Homo sapiens: one gene and its partners. The protein of the gene in region 4 interacts with the protein of the main gene of each other region in a biochemical or structural test. Each region holds a gene or a part of one and is shown on either strand. Other genes may lie near its edges.

What was found.
Region 1: the proteins of GRIP2 (region 4) and KCNT2 interact in a test that uses a peptide from one of them, tested with the Homo sapiens proteins (one large-scale study listed by IntAct).
Region 2: the proteins of GRIP2 (region 4) and TRIM50 interact in a test that uses a peptide from one of them, tested with the Homo sapiens proteins (one large-scale study listed by IntAct).
Region 3: the proteins of GRIP2 (region 4) and IGSF5 interact in a test that uses a peptide from one of them, tested with the Homo sapiens proteins (one large-scale study listed by IntAct).
Region 5: the proteins of GRIP2 (region 4) and CRHR1 interact in a test that uses a peptide from one of them, tested with the Homo sapiens proteins (one large-scale study listed by IntAct).
Region 6: the proteins of GRIP2 (region 4) and SCN4B interact in a test that uses a peptide from one of them, tested with the Homo sapiens proteins (one large-scale study listed by IntAct).
Region 7: the proteins of GRIP2 (region 4) and UQCRC2 interact in a test that uses a peptide from one of them, tested with the Homo sapiens proteins (one large-scale study listed by IntAct).

What each region holds. Positions count from the first base shown.
Region 1 is NC_000001.11:196,342,941-196,346,440, reverse strand, and holds part of KCNT2 (potassium channel subfamily T member 2), read left to right. Parts: intron 1-3,335; exon of another isoform or gene 3,336-3,385; intron 3,386-3,500. UniProt on the Homo sapiens protein: Sodium-activated and chloride-activated potassium channel. Produces rapidly activating outward rectifier K(+) currents. Contributes to regulate neuronal excitability.
Region 2 is NC_000007.14:73,318,083-73,321,582, forward strand, and holds part of TRIM50 (E3 ubiquitin-protein ligase TRIM50), read right to left. Parts: intron 2,161-3,500; coding exon 2,065-2,160; intron 993-2,064; exon of another isoform or gene 971-992; coding exon 740-970; intron 628-739; coding exon 605-627; intron 1-604. UniProt on the Homo sapiens protein: E3 ubiquitin-protein ligase that ubiquitinates Beclin-1/BECN1 in a 'Lys-63'-dependent manner enhancing its binding to ULK1. In turn, promotes starvation-induced autophagy activation.
Region 3 is NC_000021.9:39,799,882-39,802,581, forward strand, and holds the end of IGSF5 (immunoglobulin superfamily member 5), read left to right. Parts: intron 1-1,380; coding exon 1,381-1,476; 3' UTR 1,477-2,200; downstream 2,201-2,700. UniProt on the Homo sapiens protein: Provides, together with MAGI1, an adhesion machinery at tight junctions, which may regulate the permeability of kidney glomerulus and small intestinal epithelial cells. Mediates calcium-independent homophilic cell adhesion.
Region 4 is NC_000003.12:14,530,343-14,533,842, reverse strand, and holds part of GRIP2 (glutamate receptor-interacting protein 2), read left to right. Parts: intron 1-3,500.
Region 5 is NC_000017.11:45,818,820-45,822,319, forward strand, and holds part of CRHR1 (corticotropin-releasing factor receptor 1 isoform 2 precursor), read left to right. Parts: intron 1-2,535; coding exon 2,536-2,621; intron 2,622-3,500.
Region 6 is NC_000011.10:118,150,024-118,154,006, forward strand, and holds the start of SCN4B (sodium channel regulatory subunit beta-4 isoform 1 precursor), read right to left. Parts: upstream 2,801-3,983; 5' UTR 2,651-2,800; coding exon 2,590-2,650; intron 1-2,589. UniProt on the Homo sapiens protein: Regulatory subunit of multiple voltage-gated sodium (Nav) channels directly mediating the depolarization of excitable membranes.
Region 7 is NC_000016.10:21,959,861-21,963,360, forward strand, and holds part of UQCRC2 (cytochrome b-c1 complex subunit 2, mitochondrial precursor), read left to right. Parts: intron 1-2,599; coding exon 2,600-2,656; intron 2,657-2,900; coding exon 2,901-3,025; intron 3,026-3,500. UniProt on the Homo sapiens protein: Component of the ubiquinol-cytochrome c oxidoreductase, a multisubunit transmembrane complex that is part of the mitochondrial electron transport chain which drives oxidative phosphorylation.

The DNA of each region.
Region 1 (3,500 bases), on a different chromosome or scaffold from region 4:
GTGTTTGATAAAGGAGTTATTTTAAATTAGTGAGTAAAAAGATAGATTATTCAATACATTGAGTAACTGGGTGGATATTCAAAAAAGCTAAATTCAATACATTCATCATAGAAATGGAAAAATGATTACTTTCTGCCTAGAGAAAATATTAGTCCTAAAATATTAGTAAGTAGGGGATAGGGGAAGCTTATGTAATGTAGACCAAATGCTGCCCTGAAACACAGCAAGGAAGCAGTGAAAAATATACAAACAAAAAGCTTTAATTATTGGTACCAATCATGGAGGAGTTTTTTTGCCTTTTTGTGATGCATTTTATTTTTTATTTATTAGAAAATATTTCAGACATTCAAAAGGTATAAGAATATTATTATGAACACCCATGTACCTAGTATTCCAGATTTAAAAAAATAAACATGCCAAATGTTTGTGAAACCTCACATACACTATGTCTGTTTGACATCTCCTCTCTTTTTCTAGGACTTAGTTTGCTATAAAGCTGAATCTGCAGACTATTATTTTATTTAACATTTTGTATTTAAGATTTCCCCATGATGTCTTGTAAGCACTGGGACTTGCATTTTCACTGTTATCTATATGTATATTTATTTGTTTGTTTATCTATCCATGTTTCTTGTGACTAAGAATATTTAAGATTGTTATATATTTTTCTCTTCCATTAGCAAATTCTCGAAGTCTGCCTTCAGAACATACCCAGAATCTAACATGATCCAAACCATTATCATCTAGGTGGATCATTGCAATAATCCCCTCACTGGTCATTGTCTCTTCTTCAATCTGTTTTCAACACAATGACCAGAGGGATTTTATAAAATATGAATCAGACCTTTTGTACTAGTCTTCAAAAATCTCCAATGATTGCCAAGTCATCCCAATGAAAGGTCAAAGCCATAGTACAGTTATTTATAAAGTCCTACATGATCCCTCCTCCCAGCTAGTTACCTCTGTGGCCCCATTTTCTCCCCCTCCCTGAATTCCAGCTAAACTGGCTTCCCTGCTCTTCCTTAGCCGCATCAAGCATTAACTGTCTCAGGGAAGTGCTTGTAGCTACTTCTGCCTGTAATGGTCTTCTCCCAGACCTCTCTTGCCTTCTTCAAGATTTTTACTCAAATATCATCTTTTCCCTAGTCACACTATTTACATTTTATTCTACCTGCTAAAATATTAGCTCCCTTTCTGATTTATTTTTCTCCCCACAATTATCACCTCTAAACACAACACAATTTGCTTTTTCATGTTTATTGTTGGCCCTCTCCCACTAGTGGCTCTATGAGACAAGATATTTTTACCTTTTTTGTTAACTGCCATAACCTTTGAATCTAAAGCCTTTCCTGACGTTTCACAGGTGCTCAATAAATATTTTGTGTATTAGCTAATGAGTGGGGACTGGATATACACATCAGCATTAGATGTAATATTGATGTCTAGCATTTCTCAAGCAAATAACATGCGATGAAAATAACAAAGTTTGTATACTGACAATTAGATTAATTTAGAGATTCCAGGTTAACTATTAGAGGTTTTGAAGAAATCATAAAGAAAAAAAAAATTCCAACGAAATGACATCCTAAAAAAAGATGCTGCCTGAGGGGCAATGTGCCAGCATAAAATAGCAAGGCAATAAGCAAATTATTTAAGAAAATTTATCTGAACTGTCCTAGTCCGATTCCATCCATTTCTGTTCCCTTCCAAGTTACCACATTGTGTTCCCCTGTCAGCTTCTGGAATTAGATTTCTAATTCTCTTGAATAGCTTTTAGTACCCTTGCATGACAATTAGTTGACCTCATGCTGGCTTTTGGATCTCAAACAAATACTGATGAATTACCAGCACCATCTCATACATTTTCAGCCTTTCAGATAGATTCTGTTTTTGCCAAGTATCATCTTGCTAAATAGTAATGTGGTACAAAACAAAAATAACTTTATTTTTGTTTGCCAAAGGGAACGTTTTTTCCACCAGAGACAATCATTCTTAGGAAGTAGTAGCTAGATGTAGTCATATGCAATCAAAAATCAAAACTGTTTTATGTTGTTGTTTTCCTACTTCCAAAAATACGTTAACATTATGGAAGAATGGGCACAGGTTTTAAAAGCATTATTGTTTAGTAAGTCGACTAGGTTTATTTAAAATAGCTCCGGAATTTAGCAATGAGGAAGATGTAACATCAGAGTAATATTGGCAGCTTACATTTACTGCGTGTTTTCTCTGATCCCAACATCTCCCAAGTGATTTCTTTGTGTTACCTCATTTTATCTAACCCAATGAAGCTGATACTGTTTGTCACTGAAGAGATAAAGAATCACTGAAAAGTTAAATAACTCACAAAAGATTGTAGAGTTTGGCCAGGGGCGGTGGCTCACACCTATAATCCCAGCACTTTGGGAGGCCAAGGCGGGCGGATCGCCTGAGGTTGGGAGTTCAAGACCAGTCTGTCCAGCATGGTGAAACCCCATCTCTACTAAAAATACAAAAATTAGCTGGGCATGGTGGCAGGTGCCTGTAATCCCAGCTACTCGGGAAGGTTAGACAGGAGAATCGCTTGAACCCAGGAGGCAGAGGTTGCAGTGAGCTGAGATCGTGCCATTGCTGTCCAGCCTGGGCGACAAAGCAAGACTCCTTCTAAAAACACACAAATAAATAAAAATAAAAACAAAACAAAACAAAACAAAACACGATTATAGAGTTGGGACTCAGATTAGACAATCAAACTCCAGGGCCCAGGCTCTTAACTCTTTAAGCATACTTAAGAAGGAATGAGGCAGCAATGAGGCATACTTAGAAAATATAGATATTTTTTAAAGCTTATTGACAATTTGAAAATATTGACAAATGTTACCTTCCTAATAACCCTTTAGACAATACTCAGTTTAAAATGGCCTTTAAAGTCCTAAACATGGTTGTAATGTCTTGTGATCTGTTTTGATCCATTAAGAATTGATTAGAGATTATGATAAATTATTTTGATTTTTATATATTTATCATATTGCTTCTAAAATGTGCTTTTTTGTAGAGTTCATAAGTGTTATTCAGCAAAGGTAAATGAATTTATTATATAAAATGAGAAATAACCTATTTATATATCCATTATGAATTTCTCATAAATTGAATTTTTAATATATTTCTAAAGCCACTGAGTTAGGCGGGCAGCGCAGAACGTTCCAGAACAAAAGACATTGTACTTTTTGTGGTAAAATTATCTTCTTTATAAAAATACTTTTGTGGGATGTCTTTTGGAGATTTAGTCAGTTCAGGCTGTTATTACAAATTACCACAGCTTGGGCATTTTATAAACAACAGAAATTCATTTCTTACAGTTCTGAAGGCTGGAAATCCAAGATCTAGGTGCCAACATGATCCAGTGCTGGTGAGGGCCCCCTTCTGAGTTTTAAACTGCTGACTTGTATTTTCACATGGCGGGAAGATAGCTCTTTAGCATCTTTTTAAAAGGCACTAATTCCATTCCTGAGGGCTCCACTCTC
Region 2 (3,500 bases), on a different chromosome or scaffold from region 4:
TGTGCCCCTCTGCCAGGTCCCCCAGACACCTGCTCCTCCTCTAGCATTCTGTTTTGTTTTCTGAGACAGGGTCTCGCTCCGTCACCCAGGCTGGATCATGCAGTAGCATGGTCACGACTCACTGCAGCATCAAACTTCTGGGCTCAAGCAATCCTCCCGCCTCAGCCTCATGAGTAGCGGGGACTATAGGCACATGACACCATGCCCAACTAATTTTTTTATTTTTGTATTTTTTGTAGAGATGGGGTCTTACTACATTGGCCAGGCTGGTCTCGAACTCCTGGCCTCAAGCAATCCTCCTGCCTTGGCTTCCCAAAGTACTGGGATTGCAGGCATGAGCTACCCTCCTCTAGTATTTCTGTAGCTTGAGTGAACTTCTGCTGTTCTAGGTACCCACAGTTCACCATCTGCCTCCCCACCCATCTACGAGACCCTTGAAGGCAGGGACATGACTTTCCTCTGTTTTTCCCAGGCTCAGTTATAGAGCCAGCTGTGGGCAGCTGCTTGGGAGGCGCTGGTTAAACCGAATGGAGGAACCAGTGGAGCTGAGATGCCCGTGCCCGCAGCCACCAGACCCTGGCTGAGCTCTCTCCAAGGTTATTACCTGGAGGCCATGGAGTGGAACTTCTGGAAGGCAAGAGAGAGGGAGGTTAAGGCTAGAAGGTGGGAAGCTAGGGCACTGTTGGGAAGGGGAAGGCCCTGGCGGGTATGGGGATGGGACGCCTCCCTGTCCACTCACCCGGATGAACTTGTGGTGGTCCTCATTGCCGAACTGTTCCAGCACACACTCGGCTTGGGCCAGCCGCTCCCGGGTTCCCTGGGCCTGCTCCAGCTGCATGTCCAGGGAGGCCACCAGGCCACGGGTGTGACCCCCTATCCCCTCCAGGCAGCGGGCCTTCTCCTCATCCACCAGGTGGTGCAGCTCCTGGAACTCGCGGCGGATCACCCAGCTGAAGACATCCGACTCATTCTGGGACAGGGAGGGCTGGTCACTGCAGAGTCACAGCCGAGCTGCCAGGCTCTGTCTGGCTGGCCTCGGTGTCCCCAGGGCCTTCCTGACCGGGTTGGTCCTGGGACCTGAGTCTCAGGGGAGGCTGCATGGCCTGGCGCCGGGCAGGGAGTTCACCCCATGCATGGGGAGCCCTGGCGGTGGCCGTGGGGAGGGTGACCCCAGCTCCCGTTTCAAATGGAGAGGCTCTGTTTTGGCCTGTTTTAATTTTTTTTTTTAAGAGACAGGGTCTCACTCTGTTGCCCAGGCTGGAGCACAGTGGCATGATCATAGCTCACTGTAGCCTTGACCTCCCAGCCTCAAGCAATCCTCCCGCCTCAGCCTCCCGAGTTGCTGGGATTACAGATGCACGCCACCACACCCCACTTTGCCTATTTCAGCTATTAAATGTGCATATCCCAGAGTTCCACAACTGAAGGAAAGCAGGAAGGCCCTAGGCGAGCAGGCTTTGCTGTGAGGGAGCCAGAACTCCCTGCAGAACCCTGAGCTCCGCCTCCACCAGGCAGGGCTGGTACCGCCTGCCGCGCAAGGGTGAGGAGGGTAAATGAGGGAGGCTGAGTGCTCCTGGATCTTGCCCGGCTCCTGTTTCTGTTTCACAGCCACCTCCAGGGCCGGGGCACTATGGCTCCCAGCCCCATGTGCCTCTCACTTCGGGAGATCAGCCAGGGCCCAGGGCTGCCAGCCTCTCCACGCCTGAGCACCCAGGTACTGGGAGGGCACCATGACAGGCTGGCAAGGTCAAGCAGACACAGGTGGCACAGGGGCGGAGGAGTCATGCCCATGCTTTGAGCTGTTTACCCCCTGAGACTCAAGTCCTGGGTTATCTCAGTCTCAAGGACACAGAGGGCAAAAGCCAACTTGGAGCCAGTCCTAACGACAACTGGGTTGAATTCCCCTGAGAGGATTTGCGCTTTCCCCACCCCGCCCTGGGAATGCTTTGAGTTCTGGCTTTATATGGAAGGCATGGTTTTCTGTAAAGGACCAATGAGAACTGAGTTCTACAGGAAAGTGAAGGTGGCCGGTCCCAGGCAGGGGCAGAGGGAAGGGGCACTCACGACGATTCGGGTCCGGTTGTTCACCAGTTTGGCGATGAGCTCATCCACCTTTTTCTGCTCCTGCTTCAGCTCAGAGATGAGGGCTGCGAGCTCCTCCTGGAGGCAACAGGCCATGGCCCCATGAGCAGCTGATCCCTCCCCTTCTCAGCTCCTTGGATCACCTTCTTGGGAGTATCCCAATGGCCACAAGCACTCCCAGGGAAACCAGGGCGGGAACCAGAGCCACCCAGGTACCCTTGAGTCCAAAACAGGTTAAATTGTTCGAGAATAGTCTGGGCGCAGAAGCTCACGCCTGTAATTCCAGCACTTTGGGAGACTGAGGTGGGACTTCACTTGAGGTCAGGAGTTCGAGACTAGCCTGGCCAACATAGTGAAACCCCATTTCTATTAAAAATACAAAAATTAGCCAGGCGTGGTGGCATACACCTGTAGTCCCAGCTACTTGGGAGGCTAAGGCACGAGAATCGCTTGAATCTGGGAGGTGGAGGTTGCAGTGAGCCAAGATCATGCCACTGCACTCCAGCCTGGGTGACACAGTGAGACTCTGTCTCAAAAAAATAAAAATAAAAAATAAGATAAATTAATTCAAGAATATTCTAGGCTGGGCGCAGTGGCTCACGCCTGTACTCCCAGCATTTTGGGAGGCCGAGGCGAGTGGATCACCTGAGGTCAGGAATTCGAGACCAGCCTCAACATGGAGAAACCCTGTCTCTACTAAAAATACAAAATTAGCCAGGCGTGGTGGTGCATGCCTGTAATCCCAGCTACTCGGGAGGCTGAGGCAGGAGAATTGCTTGAACCTGGGAGGCAGAGGTTGTAGTGAGCCAAGATCGCGCCATTGCACTCCAGCCTGGGCAACAAGAGTGAAACTCCGTCTCAAAAAAAAAAAAAAGGAATATTCTAGGCTGGGCACAATGGCTCGTGCCTGTAATCCCAGCATTTTAGGAGGCCAAGGTGGGAGAATCACTTGAGGATAGGAGTTTGAGACCAGCCTGGGCAACACAGTGAGATCCCATCTCTAATTTTTTTTTAAAGAATATTCTGCATTGACAGCAGGAACTTCCCAGGCATAAGAGGGTCTCAATGTCACCCCTCTGCATGACATGGAGAGAGTCACTAAACGTTACAGCTACCAGAAGTCACCATGTGATGCTGGCACTTCCTGGATTGAATGCTGCCTGTAGGGGACCCATCAGGTGAACTCTGTGGTCACCAGCAGATCCAGAATTAGTGGGTATTTAATCAGGAGCCATCACAAAAAGGCCGGCGCCAGGTGAGGCTAATTCTAGGGCCAGTGGTGCTCACACGGGCCTGGGTTAAACCTGGTGAATCCCCACACCCATAAACACCTGAATCCATTCCTGGTGGGCTTGGACACAGCACGGATTTGCGACCTCCCCAAGCTGACATAAATGCACTTCTCCTGGACTGCCCGG
Region 3 (2,700 bases), on a different chromosome or scaffold from region 4:
CAGAAGGAAAAAAGAGATTCATTTTCAAAACTGTCATATACAATATGACAATTTTCTTCTCTGATTATTTCTCTGATGACTGAATCTACAGTTAGAATATGTAGTACTGACATGGTTTTCTAGACAAGAGTTTCCCTGTTGGTGAAACAGAATGAATTTGGGTGCAACTGCAGCTGAAACACATTAGGGTAAAAGTAATAAGTAAAATTAGAAATTCCTACTAAAATAACCAATTACTGGGAAAGGCATGCTTTTTTATTTCAATATGAAGCCAGGGGATTTGCAAATGTTTTTTATTTTGGCGAATATTTAAAACAAAGAATCCTCCTTTTCCTCTCTTTGTCCTGTGCCTTAACTCACTGTCAGTGCATTTTCCTGGCTGTTTTAGGAAATTCTCTGTCTCTGTCATTTTCAGAAGATGGGCATATAAACAACTTGAGACCTGGATCAAGCCTTCCCCACAAATCACCCCCTCATTGAGACAAACAGAAATACATACTTGATAAATTTAGAAAACAGCGATGTTTGCACAACCCAGCAGTGAAAACAAAAGCAAACGACAGTAGGAATCTCTAGCATATTAGCAGCAGAAGGCACATGTCTTAAAGCACTGCTGACATAGTTCCATCCGCTGTCCAGTTTTCCCTGTGTTATTGGGAGTCAACAAATTAAGAGCGTGAGCCAGAGTAATTCTATCCTCAAGACTTGCTAGCATTCCATCACATTGTGAATAATTTATCATGCCCAGTTACATTATTTAAGATGTTAAGTGCAGCTATTGTGCCCTGGAACCTGAGCTGCCATTCTCAGGACTGGCAGGAAAAAAGTGTTGCACACATTTTAATAAGGCAATATTATGAGACAGGCATTGGCCACTCTGGAGGATTAAATGGTTTGTTTGGGATTACATTTCTGAATGAGAACAGGGAAGACTATGTTTCTCCCTGATAGGGAAAAGAGACAGGTGGGTGATCTATCTGGAGTCAGTTCTTCAATTTTGTCCCCCTGTTCTAGAAACAATGCACGCTCTTTAAGAAGTTTAGAAATATTTTATATTTTCATAAAAAATCTAGCCAGTAAAGCAAGAACTTCCTTAGGAAAATTGAAACACAAAACAAAACAATGAGTCGTGGTAATTTGCCTTAGTCAAAACAAATACTGATTCTTGGAATTGGATTGCCCTTTAGGGCCTGAACTTGGAAAACTTCTATATTGTGTGTTACCAGAAATAATGCAAGAAAGGAAGAGCTTATTTTAACATTTTTGTTCCTCTCCGTACCTTAATTTTATCTTAACAGATGAGTGAAGCTCTCTTTTCAAGTTTGCATTTTACAGTGATCTCAACCCATTAAATTGACTTTTTTCCTCCTCTGTTGCCAGCGGGCTGATCAACGTCCACCCAGGCCAGCAAGTCATCCACAGGCTTCTTTTAATCTGGCCAGTCCTGAGAAGGTCAGTAATACAACTGTAGTATAGCAAAGCCTTCCCCAAGCTCCACTGAGCACTTGGCTGACAATTCAAAACACGGCGATGGCATCCTTCCTTTCCATCCTAAGACTGGCCTGCAGCTTTGCCAACATTACCTGAAGAGGAGATGTCGGAGTCATCAGAACTGATACTTGACAGTGAGAGAAGGAATCGATTTTCCCAGAGTTCAAAGTAGAATGTGACTTTTAAGAGGTTTCATGGTTTTTGTGAATTCCATGAAGTTACTAAGTAAAAGCTGCAAATTCATCATAATTTTTCTCAACATTCAACACTCCTACTTGTTAATCCAACAAATGGTAGATAAAAGTCTGTATTCTACCATGCCTTTCAAAAGTTTTTATTATCTGAAAGCATATGAAGATGATATTTATGTATATTTAATATGTAGGGGTATTATTACATATTATCAGTGAAATACGAGTATAAAAATTAGGGTCAACCAGAAATCTGCAATTGACTGTCAAAACTGAGCTCAGTTAAAGTAAGATTCAATTCTAACATGGATGTGCACGTTCCTAAATATCTTATGATTGAATATTTACATGAAGGCATTCATTTTTATCTGCCCCTTTATCAGACCTATTTGCATCTCCTCAAATGAATTAGATGTGGCCTATGCTTTGCAGAGGATGGACCTCACCTACTCCGCACACCGTGAAAAAACTGGAAATGGGCATTGTAGTCTTTAATTAATAAAAACACCAAAAATGTGTATTGCCTTTCTTAACTCTTCACTATTCAGTTGGTCATTTAAAGAATCATAGTATTCGGGAATCAAGCCTTTTCCGAGAAGGAAAACAAGAGCCTTCTGCAAAAATCCATCACATCTTCACAATTATCTTTGCTGACTGTACATTCACTTCATTTAAAGTTAACATGAATGTTGTTATGAAGAATAAATTGCTGCCTTTCCCCAGTATTTTTCTTTTTCCATGTAGATACAGTCAGTGAATTTAACTGCCCATTCCACCCCTTCATATTTAACCTAGGGGCAAGACTGTGATTTGACCGTACTCTGAACTGGTTGGTGCAGATTTCTATGCTGGTTATAATTAGCAACTGCTTTGAGTCCCTCAAGCTCAACCATGCTATTGCTAAAGCAGAATTTGACTTTTAAAATATGTCAGGATTTTAGTGAATTCCTTACGGATACTTAGTAATAGATGCAAATTTGTCATGGTGTTTCTAATCACTCACTCCTGCTTGCTAATC
Region 4 (3,500 bases):
AAACCGGCCAAAAATTGTAGCAGGAAGGGAGTTGCAGCCACTCGGTGTTGAGACCAGCAGACTCCGGCACCTCCGCTGTCCCTAAGCTGTCACTGTAACCCACTTTAGCACCCGGTAGTGCACTGGAGCAAAATCTGAATATTGGGGTGAGGAAAGGGAAGACAGGCAGTGTCAGAGACAAACTTGGAGGGCACCACGGAGACCCAGGGCATGGGTCCCCCCCTTCGCCAGCCAACATCGGGCACCCTGTGCTTCAGCATCCAGCTCTTGGGGGTGCCGTTGTTCCTCCGTCTGAATTTCTGACTTGTTTTTACAATTAGGGCTCACAGCTCCACATCCACTCTGGGATTCCACTGCTCTGAATTTGGTGAACTTGGGCTTTGGCTTCCTTATCCTTTCCTTAAGAGATAATCCTTCTCCCTCCCCCACTTTTCTCTTAGGATTCATAAACCTGGAGCTAGCAAGCTTATCTCTGGTCTTCCCAAGACAGCTGGAGATAGAGAGGGATTTTCCAGGGACAGAATCTAATCTGCACAGGATAAGACGTATTTTAATTCCAGAATTGCCCTCCTGAAATACCAGAGACGTTCACTGTCACACAGTTGATAGAACCCAGTCTTTTTGATTTTATTAGCTCAGAAACATCTTGTTGAATCTAAATGAAGTGCGTATTAGGAAACCGTAATGGGAGGCATTATACTTAATGGGGTGTCGCCTGAATCCGTGGTGGCTGATGTGAACTGGAGGTGGAAGGCGGATGAGCGGAGCTGCTGAGGACCCAACCCCAGGGGACCTGGAAATGATTCCTGGCTTAACTGCTATTTGATTTGTTATTTATCAGCTGCTGGCAAGCAAAGAGAGCCCAGCCCTGGTCTGGCGGAGCACGGTAGTTGGCAACTGGGACCTTTCTCAATGGTTACAGCTGCAGGTGGGAACGCTGTCAGGCTTCCATAGGCCCAAGTTGACCAGCAACACTGACTCAGGCTGAGCCCCGCCCTCAACTCAGCAGTATCCGGCCCGGAGCCAGGCTGAGCCCCGCCCTCAACTCTACAGGATCCGGCCCGGAACCAGGTTGAGCCCCACCTCCGACTCAGTCTGCGCCCAGCCCTTAAGTCAGTCTGAGCCCCGCCCTTAACTCAGGCTGAGCCTGGCCCAGACCCAGGTTGAACCCCCTCCCCTAACTCAGGTTGAGCCCCACCCCTGACCCAGGTTGAGTCCCCTCCTGACTATAGAGCAATGGTTCTCTGTTGGGGGCGATATGGTTCCCCTAGGGCACGTTTGGCAATGTTTGGAGTCATTTTTGTTGGCCACAGATGCTCCTGGCATCTGGTGGTTAGAGGCCAAGGATGCTGCTCAGCTTCCTACAATGCAGAAGAGAAGCCCCCACCACAGGAATCATCTGGCAAAAAATACCCATAGTGCGAAGGCTGAGAAACCTCCCGTAGACTGAGCCCTGTTTCCGGTTCTGGCTGAGCCCTGACGCTGGCCCAGACTGAGTCCTGACCTTGACTCAGGCCACTCATACCCAGGCTGAACCCTAATCAGACCCTCCCCTCATGAAAAAGACCTGGCTGGAGCAGAGTGGGGAAAGTGGCCTCTGCCACCTGCGGGGACCAGACCTTCTCCCGTCTTTTCTCCCGCTGCCGCTGAGGATGGGAGGGCGCGTGGGCCGCTGGGTCAGGTCTCACTTTCCATGGGTGTGAGGTTGGGGAGGAGAGCGAAGTTCCCACAGCTGGCGAATGGCAGAGCCAGGATCTCTACTGAGGCCTGGCTGACCCCTGAGCCTCTTCTGCTAACACTAGGCTAAGCTGGAGCCGCAGAGGTTGGGGTGGTAGGAGAGCCCTTCTTCAAGGGCAGGCGGGGGCATGTGCAGGCTCAGACGAGGCCTGAGGAAGGAGCAGAAGGTGCCCCGGAGGGCTGAGCCCTGAGGCAGCGCAGGGAGCCCACCAGCTTGATGGTGCGTCCCTTCTCACTTTGGCACCTGTTCTTGCCCGTGTCAGCCCAGTACTGAGAAAGGAGACTTAGATGAGGAATGTGAAAAACATAACCCGCTCGATGGGGCCTCAAGCACAGGGTAGAAAACGCTAAAAGGCCTGGGGTCTGCTTCCAGCTCTTGGTAGACGCTGCTTTCGCCAAAGACCTCCCTTTTCTGAGCCTGTTTCCTCGTCTGTCAAATGGGTGTGATCGCAGCACCTACCTCCTCCCAAGGCCACTGTGAGAAGTGAATGAGGTGGAACAAGATAATGTGGTGGTGTGCACAGGGCATGGCTGCTGCAGGATCTGTGAGTTTCCTTCCCCTCTCTGTCAGCACATAGAGGAGAAACCAGAATATGCCCCATCAGGCTGAACCCTGCCTTTAACTCAGGCAGAGCCCCGCAAAATGAGGCATGTGCAAAAGGAGGGATGCTGCAGGGAGGCTGGGGTCCAGCAGGTGACCAGACAAGCTTCCAGCTTCAAACTCCTTTGAAATGCTCAGGTGCAGTCACAGGAAAGTAAGGACAACCTCAGGCATCAGAAATGAAGCGAGTGAGAGTATCAAGGAGATAAGGATGGTCTGTGTAATCACCCCATCAACTTTGTAAGGGAGGTCTGGCCAGTCCAATAAGGCAAATAAGAGAAATGAAAGGCATAAAGTTTAGAAAGTAAGAAATAAAACTGTCATTTTCACAGATGATATGATTATGTATATAGAAAATCCAAAAGAATGTATGGCTAAACTTAGAATTAATGAGTGAATTTAAAAGTTCAGAATACGTACTCGCTTAGGCAGCACAGATACTAAAATTGGAATGATACAGAGAAGATTAGCATGGCCTCTGTGCAAGAATGACACACAAATTTGTGAAGTCTTCCGTAGTTTTGCAAAAAAAAATAGAAAGAATGAATAAGACCTAGTATTTGATAGCACACTAGGGTGACTATAGTCAATAATGATGTAATTGTACATTTAAAAATAACTAAAAAGATTTAATTGGATTGTTTGTAACACAAAGGATAAATGCTTGAGGTGATGGATACCCCATTTACTTTGATGTGATTATTATGCAGTGCGTACCTGTATCAAAATATCTCATCTACCCCATAGATATATACACCTACTACATACCCACAAGAATTAAAAATAAATTTTTTAAGCTCAGAATATAAAACGAACTGTATATTTTTACACCAGGAACAAATAATTAGAAAATGAAATTTGAAAAACAATCCAATTTCTGTAGCTTTAACACACTTTAAATGCCTAGGAATACATTTAATGAGAGTGGTATAAGACTTTTTCTCATACAAGTACACAGTGTTCTTAGGAGAAATTAAAGATAAAAATGAATGGAGGAATATACTGTGATCATTGACTGGAAGATTCAATATTGTCTCCCAAAGAAAAAGACATCAATTCTCCACAAATGGGCCTATACATGCATTTCCACTCAAAAAATGGAGAGAAATGGAAAACAAGTAGGATGAGTGCAGGTGATGCTGGGGCTTCTCTACTGGGGTGG
Region 5 (3,500 bases), on a different chromosome or scaffold from region 4:
CATCTGATCTTCAAAGGGATGGGAAGCATTTCCAAAAATATCTATTTTCCCGTGATTCTTTGGGAGGACTGCTCAGCTCAGCAATTAAAGACAAGGAGGTCGCATCCTCCCTGGCAACGGCTCCCTGCTTGTTGGGCCTGCTTTCTTTCGGATCACCTCCTTTCTCCCCATCAAAGCCTGCTCCCTCTGGGTGACCCAGCCTCTGATGGGACTCCTGACTCTCCCCCACATGTCAAGGGGGGCAAGGGTGTTGAGCAAAGGGGCTCCTCCCACAATATCCACCGGTACCCTTTGATGGGGACAAGGGACACGCTCTGAGTCTCACGTAAGGTTATATAAATACAGCTCCAAGACAATAATAATAAAAATAACAGCCAACATCACATCCCAGGTACAGTTCCAAGCACCTTGTGCATGTTAACTAAAAATATTCAACTCTTGATGTAGGAGCTGCTATTCAGATGCTCTCACTTACAGAGGAGGAAGCTGACAGGTTTCGGGATTTGCCCAAGGTCACACAGCTAGTGGAAGGTAGTGCCAGGATTTGATGCTAGGCTGTCTGGGTCCAGGGGCCACGCTCTTAGCACTACTCCATGCTGCCTCTTAACTCAAGAACCACCCCACCCCATCCCACCACCCCCGGGCCCCTTCCAGCCGGATCTCTGTCCCAAAGCCCCTATCCCTGGAGGTATTTCAGAGCAGCCTCTGGTCCCGGGACTTCCCAGCCATGGCAGAGACACTGGGTTCTCCTGGTTCCTCGTCTCACCCTCCCCTCAGACCTCCATGAAAACCCACTGGGTGAGCCTCAGCCCTCCGGTAACTCATCCCTCATTTGGCAATTGGAGAGAATCAGCAGCCTCTTCACCAACTCTGCCCAAGGGCCTGAGGCTCCCTGAGACTGCGGTCCACTGACATGGAAGAGCTTTAAAAATCCATTTAGCCGGATCTCCCACTGGCCAGCTGTAGCTGAGCAGCTCCTCAGCAGGGGGACCAGGGAGGGGAATGGAGGGGAGTAGTGCGAGAGAGGAGAGGCCACATCTACTTTTCAGCCCTGGAGGCCAGGACGGGCTCCCTATCATCACCTTCTTGTCCTGATGCTGCCAGCAGAGGCAGCTCCCAGGCTGGATGGTCCCTTGGGGATCAGCCAGTCCAGCCCCTCCTTTTATAAATGAGAAGGGGTCCCCAGAGGTCAGTCATGCAGCACGGCAGCAGCTCAGCTGGTCCCAGGGCCCCAGCCTCTAGATCCTCACAGGGTTCTGCCCCATGGGGCTCCAGACTCAAGGACTGGGACTCCAGCAGCTTTCCCAGCCCTGTTCCAGCCCCAAGGGCCACTGGGAGCCACAGGAAGGCCTACAGTGAGGGAGGCTCCAGGTGAGATACTCAGGGCTTCATTTCTCTGCCAGGCAGTTCTGCCTGAAGTCAGAGCCAGAATTAACTCAAGGAAGCATGTTTAGAGCTACTGATGCCAGAGCCGGGTACAGGGTGGGGTGGGGCAACCTCTGCCAGCAGAGAAGATGAGATGGAATTTAGAACTCATGCTGTCCCTTCCCAGCTAGGTTTTAGGACCCTGGAGCTCAAGCCTGGTAGGCATGAAGGAGGGTAAGGGGAACACGTTGGGCAGCTCTGCCCATCCCAGGGCCCTAAAGCCAGGCATCAATTCAGCTCACAGGGCCCCTCCCCATCTCCTTAGAAGGTGACAGGTTCTGGGCCACAGTCCAGGCCGGTGGCTGCACAAACCTCCATATGTCCCTGGGCCACTCTCCTGCCTTCCTCCTTGAGTGACATGGGCCAGGCTAGGAGCAGCTGTGACAGACCTGAGTGATGACATCTCCCCACACACGCCTGTCACCTGTCATTTTCTGTCCAAGAGACCTCCATCATGGATGTTCCCCCCACCCACAGACCACGACCTTCCAACACAGGCCCGCTATGGGGAAGTGCCACCATGGGACCTTCCCCAAGATCTGCCCCATGAACTCTGAGCCCCCATGTGCAGCACAGCCAGTGAGGACCTCCCACGGCAGCCTCTGTGAGATGGCTCTACCACAAGAAGCCCTGTCATGCCACCTGCCACGCGAGCTGTCACCGCATACCCTTCCACCGTGTCATGCCCAGCCTCGTGAAAATTGACTCATGAGGTCTCACCATTTTTTTGCTGTCTTGCAAGACCCCTGAAAAGGAGATTTCTCAGAAGAGCACCTACCTGTCATCTGCCACCACATAATGACTTGCAAAGGAACAGCCCAGGGAGCTGGTCAAGCCTGTCCACGGGCCAGTCCTGTGGGCATGATCATGCCAGCTTGAGTGGGCAGAGCCGGGGGAGCCACCAACCCCTGCTGGAGGCCAATGGGCAGAAAGAGGCAGGAAGATGGGGGTGGTAAGGAAGCCCCTCTCCCCAGCTTCACTACACAACCCCCAGCCAGCAGGTGCCTGTACTGGCCATCTACAGATCCATCTACGCATCCATCTGGGCCAGGATGGTCAGGCAGGGGCCGGGGCTGCCCCGCCATCACTGCCTCTCTCTTCCTTTTCCAGACAATGGCTACCGGGAGTGCCTGGCCAATGGCAGCTGGGCCGCCCGCGTGAATTACTCCGAGTGCCAGGAGATCCTCAATGAGGAGGTGAGGCTGAGCCGAACAAGGCTGCCCATATGGAGGGGAGTCCAGGGTCCCCAGCAGAGTTTTGTGCCTGCTACTTGGAGTCAGGGAGCCAGAGGCTAATGTCAAGGCCCTGCTCTAGTGAAGCTGACTGGGGAGCTGGAGCTGTCAACTTGGAAAAGGCCCATGAGCAGGCGCCCTCGAGGGCAGGCTGGACCAATGGGGCACTGGGCAGGCTCTGATGGTGATGAGATGGGTCCTTGTTCCTTCCTTCCTTCTCCCTGTGCTCATCGGGCAGCCGCTTGCACTGGGCATGGGACTGTCCTGGGGGTGCAAAGGGAGACCAGACTCGGTCACAGGAGTCCCACCCTTTTCCACAACACATGCCTGAGAGATACATCCAGTTCCAGCCACAGGGCTGTATGGAAACCAGGGACGGGATGGAGGTAGCAATGCAGTTTGAAAAAGCCCTTGGAAAGCCTTTTAAAATGTTAAATGTTTTTGAGCAGATATTGCTTACACAGAACTCAGAAGGTACAAATGGGAATACAATGTCCCCTCCCACCCCGTCCCCAGCCACTGGATTCCCTCCCAGAGGCAACCATTTTGCCAATTTCACAAGTGTCCTTCCAGAGACATTCTCCGCATACACGAGTAATTTTGTATACGTATTCTTTTTTGTTTTTACCTGAATGTTGCATGTTATACACACTGTCTACACCTTGCTTTTTTCATATAATCATCTATCTTAGAGATGGTTCCATATCAGTACATAAAGAGCATCTTCATTCTTTTTGCATTTGCATAATATCACAAAATGTACCATAACTTATTTAAACCAGTCTTTATTCTCAGTCTTTAGTTATTACAAATGCTGCTGCAATGAATAATCTTTGAAGGGTG
Region 6 (3,983 bases), on a different chromosome or scaffold from region 4:
TTCCTCTGAGTGGGACTGAGCACCCTCTCCTTAATTGCATTCTCATTAAACAAGCCCTTAATAAATACACACCAGGGGAAACAGGGTTGTGCAATAGAGCACCCTCACAAGTGATAATTAAACACAGATCACAGCAATTAAGTAAATGGGGGAACAAGGAAGGAGTGGGCAGGACAGAGATATTACCAGTTACATGCTTAGGAAGAGATTGGAAAGCACATAAACCTCAATGGCAATAATATAGCCTTGGAAACTGCTTCTCAGTTTAAGAAAAGGGTATTTTGTTAGGTTATCAAAAATCACTTTGGTCTCAGTCTGTGAGACTGGGTTTGATACGGGGAGAGGGGAAGAGGACTCCTGGGAGTTCACTGCTCTGTACCCAGTCTCCGAAGCTGTGAAAAGAGCCGCTCTAGGCCCCTCAAGTCTTTATCCTTCCACACTCATGCCCCAGAGCCTCACTTATTCTTCAGCCCTAAGCACAATCACTATTTACCTTCCCCCTCACCAGACTTGAGTTAAGTGGGAAGCAGCGTGGTGTGACAGAGCCCAAGAAACTTAGATTCTGTCCCACTTGGCCATCAATTGGCCATGAGCCCCTAGACAAGTCACCATCCCTCTCTGGACCATGACTTCCTCATCCCTAGGAGAGTTCTGTGCTCTGCTTCCCAGAGTTGCTGCCAACTCTGATGTTCCCAGGGAACACCTCCAGTTGGCTGTCCAGTCGTCTCTGTATCTCCCCCACTGGACTGAGAAGCAAGGATGTCATCTATGTCCCAAGCTCAGACCAATGCCCCTGTGAGGGCTCAGTCAGTATTACCTGGTCAAGGGCCAAAGGGACTTTGGTTGGAGTCCCTCTGCAGACCAGAGGGGCAGGGGACAGAGCAGATGAGGCCAGTCCTGGGGCCTGCAGGTCTCCCACCTACAAGTCACTCTGCTTTCTCCTGGGCTCCCAAAGGGTAGCTCAGAAATTCATCTAAACCTATATCAATAGGCCTTAGCCCCTACCTGGTCTATACAGCTGAACAGTCCTTGGAGAAGGTGGGGCTTCCACCTGGAGCAATGTACCAAGACTGTGCCTACAATCCCCCTTACACACGTGCACACACACACACACACACACACACACACATCATTTTCAGGGCCCTCTTGGTTGCCCACAGAGGCCTGGTTCTATGAGTATTCTAACAAACAAGGGACTGGCATCCCACCACCCAGGAAGGTAAGCCAGAGGTGTGAAGTGGGGTAGTTTAATGACTGGCTGAGTTTGAATTCCTCAGTGATCCTTTACCCCTGCCATTGCCACCATGGGGACCTGGGCTGATCTGAGATGGGATGAGGGGAAGTAGCATGGAATGGCGCTGTGCCCACCCTGTGAAAAGGAGCCTCAGGCGTCACTAAGGCCCACTTCATTAAGGTCACTGTGAAACCAGCATGACATCTGTGCCAAGGTACAGGAGAAAACAAGGGTGTCTTCCATCTAGCGGTACAGAGGTAAATAAACATCCCAAGTACAAGAAATACTCTCTCCCCTCTTCACCACCAGGCACCAACCTGCTAGATCTGCACACAGTTTACATTCGCAGAAACAGTAGCCACTTCCCTTATAGGGTTCTGTCTCCCTGTTTTCAGCAGAAATACCTACACCGTGTGTCTTACCCAATGCAGGGAGCTGCCAAAAGCCAAATCTGACCAATATAAACAGGAAGAGATGCCGTTGCCAGAGATGGAGTCGGCTTACATTAAAGTCTGGCTATGATTTATGAGGAGATTACATCCTGGATGAATAAATATCATTCCCTAATCTCTTGGAGTTTGACACTCAAAACTCTCATGTGCATATTAATAGATATTAATAATGCTTCTTCCTCCGTGTCCTCTGGACATGTCTTCTCTGTCTCCATATTCACTTCAAAAATGAAGAGCCAGGAGCAGGTCAAACAGGTCTTCCCTACGGAATCTCTTTGTAGGAAGAGAGACAAGGCCGTTCCTAAAGGGCCTTGAATGATCCCGCAAGCCCCTCCAGCCCCTTCCAGCTTTCAGGTGCTGCTGTAGGGAAGGCAGTGGCTCCTGAGGGAGGTACAGGGCAGAGGAGCAAAGCAGGAAAAGGGCCCAGGAAGAAGGGGACTCCCCCACCCCCAACTGGTGCATGCCTGGTGCCTGGGAAACAAGCAAACGGCTCTGGGCCGGGATGGAAACCACCATTCCAACAGTCACACGTGCAACCCACCTGGTATCCCCTGCACTCAAGGCACGGACCCCCCTCCTCCAGCATCCTGAACCTCTGAACTCTGGAGACCCGCGCTGCAGCCCCAAGATCCAGCTCCAAATACCTGGAGCCGAAGGTGCCAAGGACAGCAAAAAAACTAATCCTGAGACTGGCGGGCTGATGGGGTAGAGAGGGACGCACACGGTCCCCAGGGAGCACAGCCTATGAACCAGGCAGGAACCAGGCAGGAAGCCGGCGGCCACCATCCTCATTCCGTGCCGCACTCCAAAGCCCACCCCATCCAAGGCATCTTCCTTCTCGAGTGTCCCCTTCTTTGGGGGTGGGGGGAGGCAAGAGAAGAGACCAAGCTGGGGCTGCCTTACCCAAAAGCCCAGTGCCCAGCCATCTCGCCGGGGCTTTGCCTCCGTCCCCAGCCCCGGGCATAGTCCTGTTCTCTCCGGAGCGCGCGGGGGTCGCGGGGATGGGATACTGGGCACAGCCGCGCTCTCCGCCCGAGGTCGGCGTTCGGCCACAAAGCTACCCCGGAGCTCTGCGCCGCCGGTCGGGGCTCGGGAAAGTTAGCGGGCAGAGAGCGAGAGGAGGGGGAGGGAGGGAGCGGAGGGGGAGGCGCGCTCGCCCGCTGCTGGGAGCCGGCTGCTGGAGCAACGGCGGGAGGGAAGGAGTAGGAGGAGCCGGAGCAGGAGCGGGAGGAAGACGGAGCGAGCGCAGCGGCGAGCGAGGCTGCGCCTCTGCTCTGGAAGCGCTCCAGCCGCAGGAGGGGCGGTGGCCGCCGCGTAGGCCGGGGAGCCCCCGCCCGCTGCGCACCCTGCCTGCCGCACCCCGCCTCGCGGTCCCGGAGCCCCGGGACCACGCCGTGCCCCCAACTCCCTCTCCAGTGGGGCTGGGCTGCTGCGGCTGGCACTGCAGGGCCGGCCTGCAGCCACCCGCATCATCCCATGCGCTGAGCTGCCAATTAGGAGCATAGTTCGGGGGGAGTAGAGGTGGAGCTTTTCGGTTGCTGGAAGACTGTTTTGCTTTGCTTGGGGGAACACGGGAAGGTTAGCGGCTCCCTCTCCCAGGACCGCCAAGGGACCGCTTTAAAGTCCGCAGCGGACGCTGCCGCAACGGGTGGGCGTGTGCGGGCTTGCCCACTGCAGCTTGCGCCTCCTCGGTGGCGTGCGACATGGCGCGCGTGCAGCCTCGGGACCCGCTCCCGCCACCTTCTGCCCCATCGCTCAGCAACTCCGGCGGTTGTTTTAGGAAGCCCGGAACAGAGCTTTCCCATTGCAAACTGCCCCGGCCCTCCCTTCCCCCACCCCCACGCCACCCCGCCCCACATTTCTCCATGGACCCCTTGGAAATCACCACGCTCCAGGTTAGGGAGCAGGTTGGTCCGCGCCTGGTCTGTGTCCTGCGCCCCATTTCACCCTCCCGCTGCACCCCTGCTTCTCATTTTTCCTACCTAGGCCGTCCCCCTCAGATGCTGCCTTTTCGCCCTCCTCCAACTCTCCTGTTTTCTTCGGAACGGCAGACTCCCTCGGCCTCCCTTTTGGGGTAGGGGTGGAGGAGTCCAGGGTGACAACCAGGTCAGAGGGCTGAGGCGAGGCTGTGAACGAGTAAGCCTTTTCCCAGACAGGCCCAAGTGAAAGAGTTTCACCTGAGCGGTGCTACTTGGGCTGGTGGTTCTGTAAATGAGTCGATCTCCTCCTCAGCACCTTTCCAACCATCCAAGACCCTCCCTGCATCACAGGCCCTCTTTACTGTCTAGGACTGGTCC
Region 7 (3,500 bases), on a different chromosome or scaffold from region 4:
GCATTGTTGCAGTAATAATTTGAAAGGAATCTTTTTTCTGAGCAATGGGCTTAAAATATTCAGTCAACCATGCTATAAACAGATGTACTATCATCCAGGCTTTTTTGTTCATTTACAGAGCATAGGCAGAGTAGATTTAGCATAATTCCTAAGGGCTCTAGGATTTTGAGAATGGTAAATGACCTCATCCTAAAGTCACCAGCTGCATTAGTCCCCAACAAGAGTCAGCTTGTCGTTTGAAGCTTTGACGCCAGGCATTGACTTCTCTAGCTACGAATGTCCTGGACGGCATCTTCCAATGTAAGGCTGTTTTGTCAGCATTGAAAATCTGTGGTTTAGTGTAGCCACCTTCATCGATGATCTTATGTAGATCTTCTGGATAACGTGCTGCAGCTTCTATATTAGCATTTGCTGCTTCACTGTGTACTATTATATTAAGAAGATGGCTTCTTTCCTTAAAGCTCATGAACTAACCACGGCTAGCTTCAGACTTTTCTTCTGCATCTCACCTCTCTCAGCCTTCATATAATTGAAGAGAGTTAGGGCATTGCTCTGGATTAAGCTTTGACTTAAGGGAATACAGTTTGATCTAATCCAGACCAGTAAAACTCTGTATTATCAGCAATAAGTCTGTCTTGCTTTCATATCATTTATGTGTTCAGTGGAGTAGCACTATTAGTTTTCTTCAAGAACTGCACTGGTGCAAGAGGCCTAGCTTTTGACCTGTATCCGTTTTTAACATGCCTTCCTGACTTCCTTAGAAGCTTAATCCTTTCTAGCTTCTGATTTAAAGTGAGAGACATGAGACTCTTCCTTTCACTTGTATACTTAGGGGCCATTGTCGGGTTATTCATTAGCTTAATTTCAATATTGTTGTGTCTCAGGAGTAGGAATATCCAAAGAGAGGGAGAAAGACTTGGGGAGCAGCTGGTCAGTGGAACACTCAGGACAGAAACAGCATTTCTTTTTTTTTAATTAATTTATATTAAAGACAGGGTCTTGCTCTGTTTCCCAGGCTGGAGTGGAGTGGTGCAGACATACCTTATTGCAGCCTTGAACTCCTGGGCCCAAGCGATTCTTCTCCCTCCGCTTCCCAAGTAGCTAGGACTATAGGCACATGACTCCATGCCTGGCTAATTTTTTATTTTTTGTACAAATGGAGGTCTCACTATGTTGCCCAGACTGGTCTTGAACTCCTGGCCTCAGGTGATCCTCTCACCTCAGCCCAGCATGCTGGGATTGCAGATGTGAGCCACTGCACCCAGCCCAGATTTTTTATATATTGTGTTGTCAGTGGTAAAGATGATAGAGAATGTCTCATTCTGCTGATAGGAGTATAAATTGATACAACCACTTAGGAAAGAATCAAGGAATATCTGGTAATATTGAAAAACCCCACAGTTTTTAATCACATTCACAAAGGTATTCTTTATAAAGACTGGAAACGATCTAAGTGTCCATCTTTAGGGAAATGGGTAAAGTATGACAGAGTCATGATGAGACCACTATACAGCCATTACGGAATGAACTAGATCCATACGTCAACATAGCACAACTGAAGGGCAAAATAGAGTGTGAACAAGCAAGTTTCAAGATTTCTTTAAGGTATTTTAATTTTTTAAGCAGAAAAATACTATGTAGTGCTTATGATTGTGGTTTCCAGAGTGGGAGAGAGTGAGGGAATTGGTCTTGGAAGGGTACGAAAAGATCTTCAACTTTATTTGCCATTTTAAAAAATTGTGGTCAAATGTATATAACATAAAATTTATATATATATATATATATATATATATATATATATATATATATTTTAGACAGTCTCGCTGTGTCGCCCAGGCTGGAGTGCAGTGGCATGATCTTGGCTCACTGTAACCTCCGCCTCTTGGGTTCAAGCGATTCTCCTGCCTCAGCCTCCGTGGTAGCTGGGATTACAGGCGTGCGCCACCATGCTTGGCTAATTTTTGTATTTTCAGTAGAGACCATGGTTTCACCCTGTTGGCCAGGCTGGTCTCAAACTCCTGACCTCAAGTGATCCGCCCACCTCGGCCTCCCAAAGTGCTGGGATTACAGGTGTGAGCCACTGCGCCCGGCCCAAATTTATCATTTTCTTAAGTGTGCAGTTAAGTGGCATTCAGCAACCATCACCAACATTCAGCTCCGGAACTTTTCTATCTTCTCCCACCTGAAATTCTGTACCTGTTAAACAATGGCTGCTCATTCTCCCCTCCCCTCAGCCTTTGGCAACTGCCATTCTCTTTTCAGTCTCTACAAATTTGACTACTCCAGGTACCTCATAAGTAGAATCATACAATATTTGTCCCTTTGTGACTGGCTTATTATCCTTAGCATAATGTCCTCAGGGTTCATCTGTGTTGTAACATGTGACCAGATTTCACTCCTTTTAAGGTTGAATTATTTGCTGGTTTTTAAAAAAATTTTGAATTTTAGTTGGTTAATATGTGGAGTTTTGTTATATTATTGTTCGCACCTTTTATACTTCAGAAATTTTCTTTCCAAAGGAATTGGTTGATAGAAGATTATAAGGGAAAGCTTACTATCCTGATTCAGATGATTTACTCTAGTTTATTTTCCGATTCAGTGTGACCGCAACAAGGGAAAACATGGCTTATACTGTGGAATGCCTGCGGGGTGATGTGTAAGTACCTGTGTGTGTTTAGGACTTCTGCTTTGAAAGAAATACTAAGCTGCTCACTTCTGGTCTTTGTAATGCGTCATTATGACCTCTGACTTCCATTTTGGATTATTGTTCATAAACTGCTCAAAAACACTGCTTACCACAAGACCTAAAGTTTCACATTGAGAGCATTACAGCTATGTAGAATCTCAAATGTTGGCTTTACATTTTTGACTCATAATTCTTATCTCGATGTCTTCTGTAGTGATATTCTAATGGAGTTCCTGCTCAATGTCACCACAGCACCAGAATTTCGTCGTTGGGAAGTAGCTGACCTTCAGCCTCAGCTAAAGATTGACAAAGCTGTGGCCTTTCAGAATCCGCAGACTCGTAAGTACATTTCCAGATCACATTTGATTCTAAGATACTGGGTTTTTTAGAAGATCAATTTATAGAAGAAAAAAAATTGCTGTCAAAATTTTTATTTTTATTTTTATTTATTTATTGTTTTGAGACAGAGTCTCACTCTGTCACCCAGGCTGGAGTGCAGTGGCACGATCTTGGCTCACTGCAACCTCCAGCTCCCGGGTTCAAGCAATTCTCCTGCCTCAGCCTCCTGAGCAGCTGGAATTATAGGTGTGCACCACCACACCTGGCTAATTTTTTGTATTTTTAGTAGAAACAGGGTTTTGCCATGTTGGTCAGACTGGAGTTCAGTCTTGAATTCCTGGCCTCAAGTGATCCACCCACCTCAGCCTCCCAAAGTGCTGGTGTTACAGGTGTGAGCCACCATGCCTGGCCAAATGTTTTACTCCTTGAATTTGAAAATATCTTTTTCAAAAATTTGTTATTTAGATTTATTATT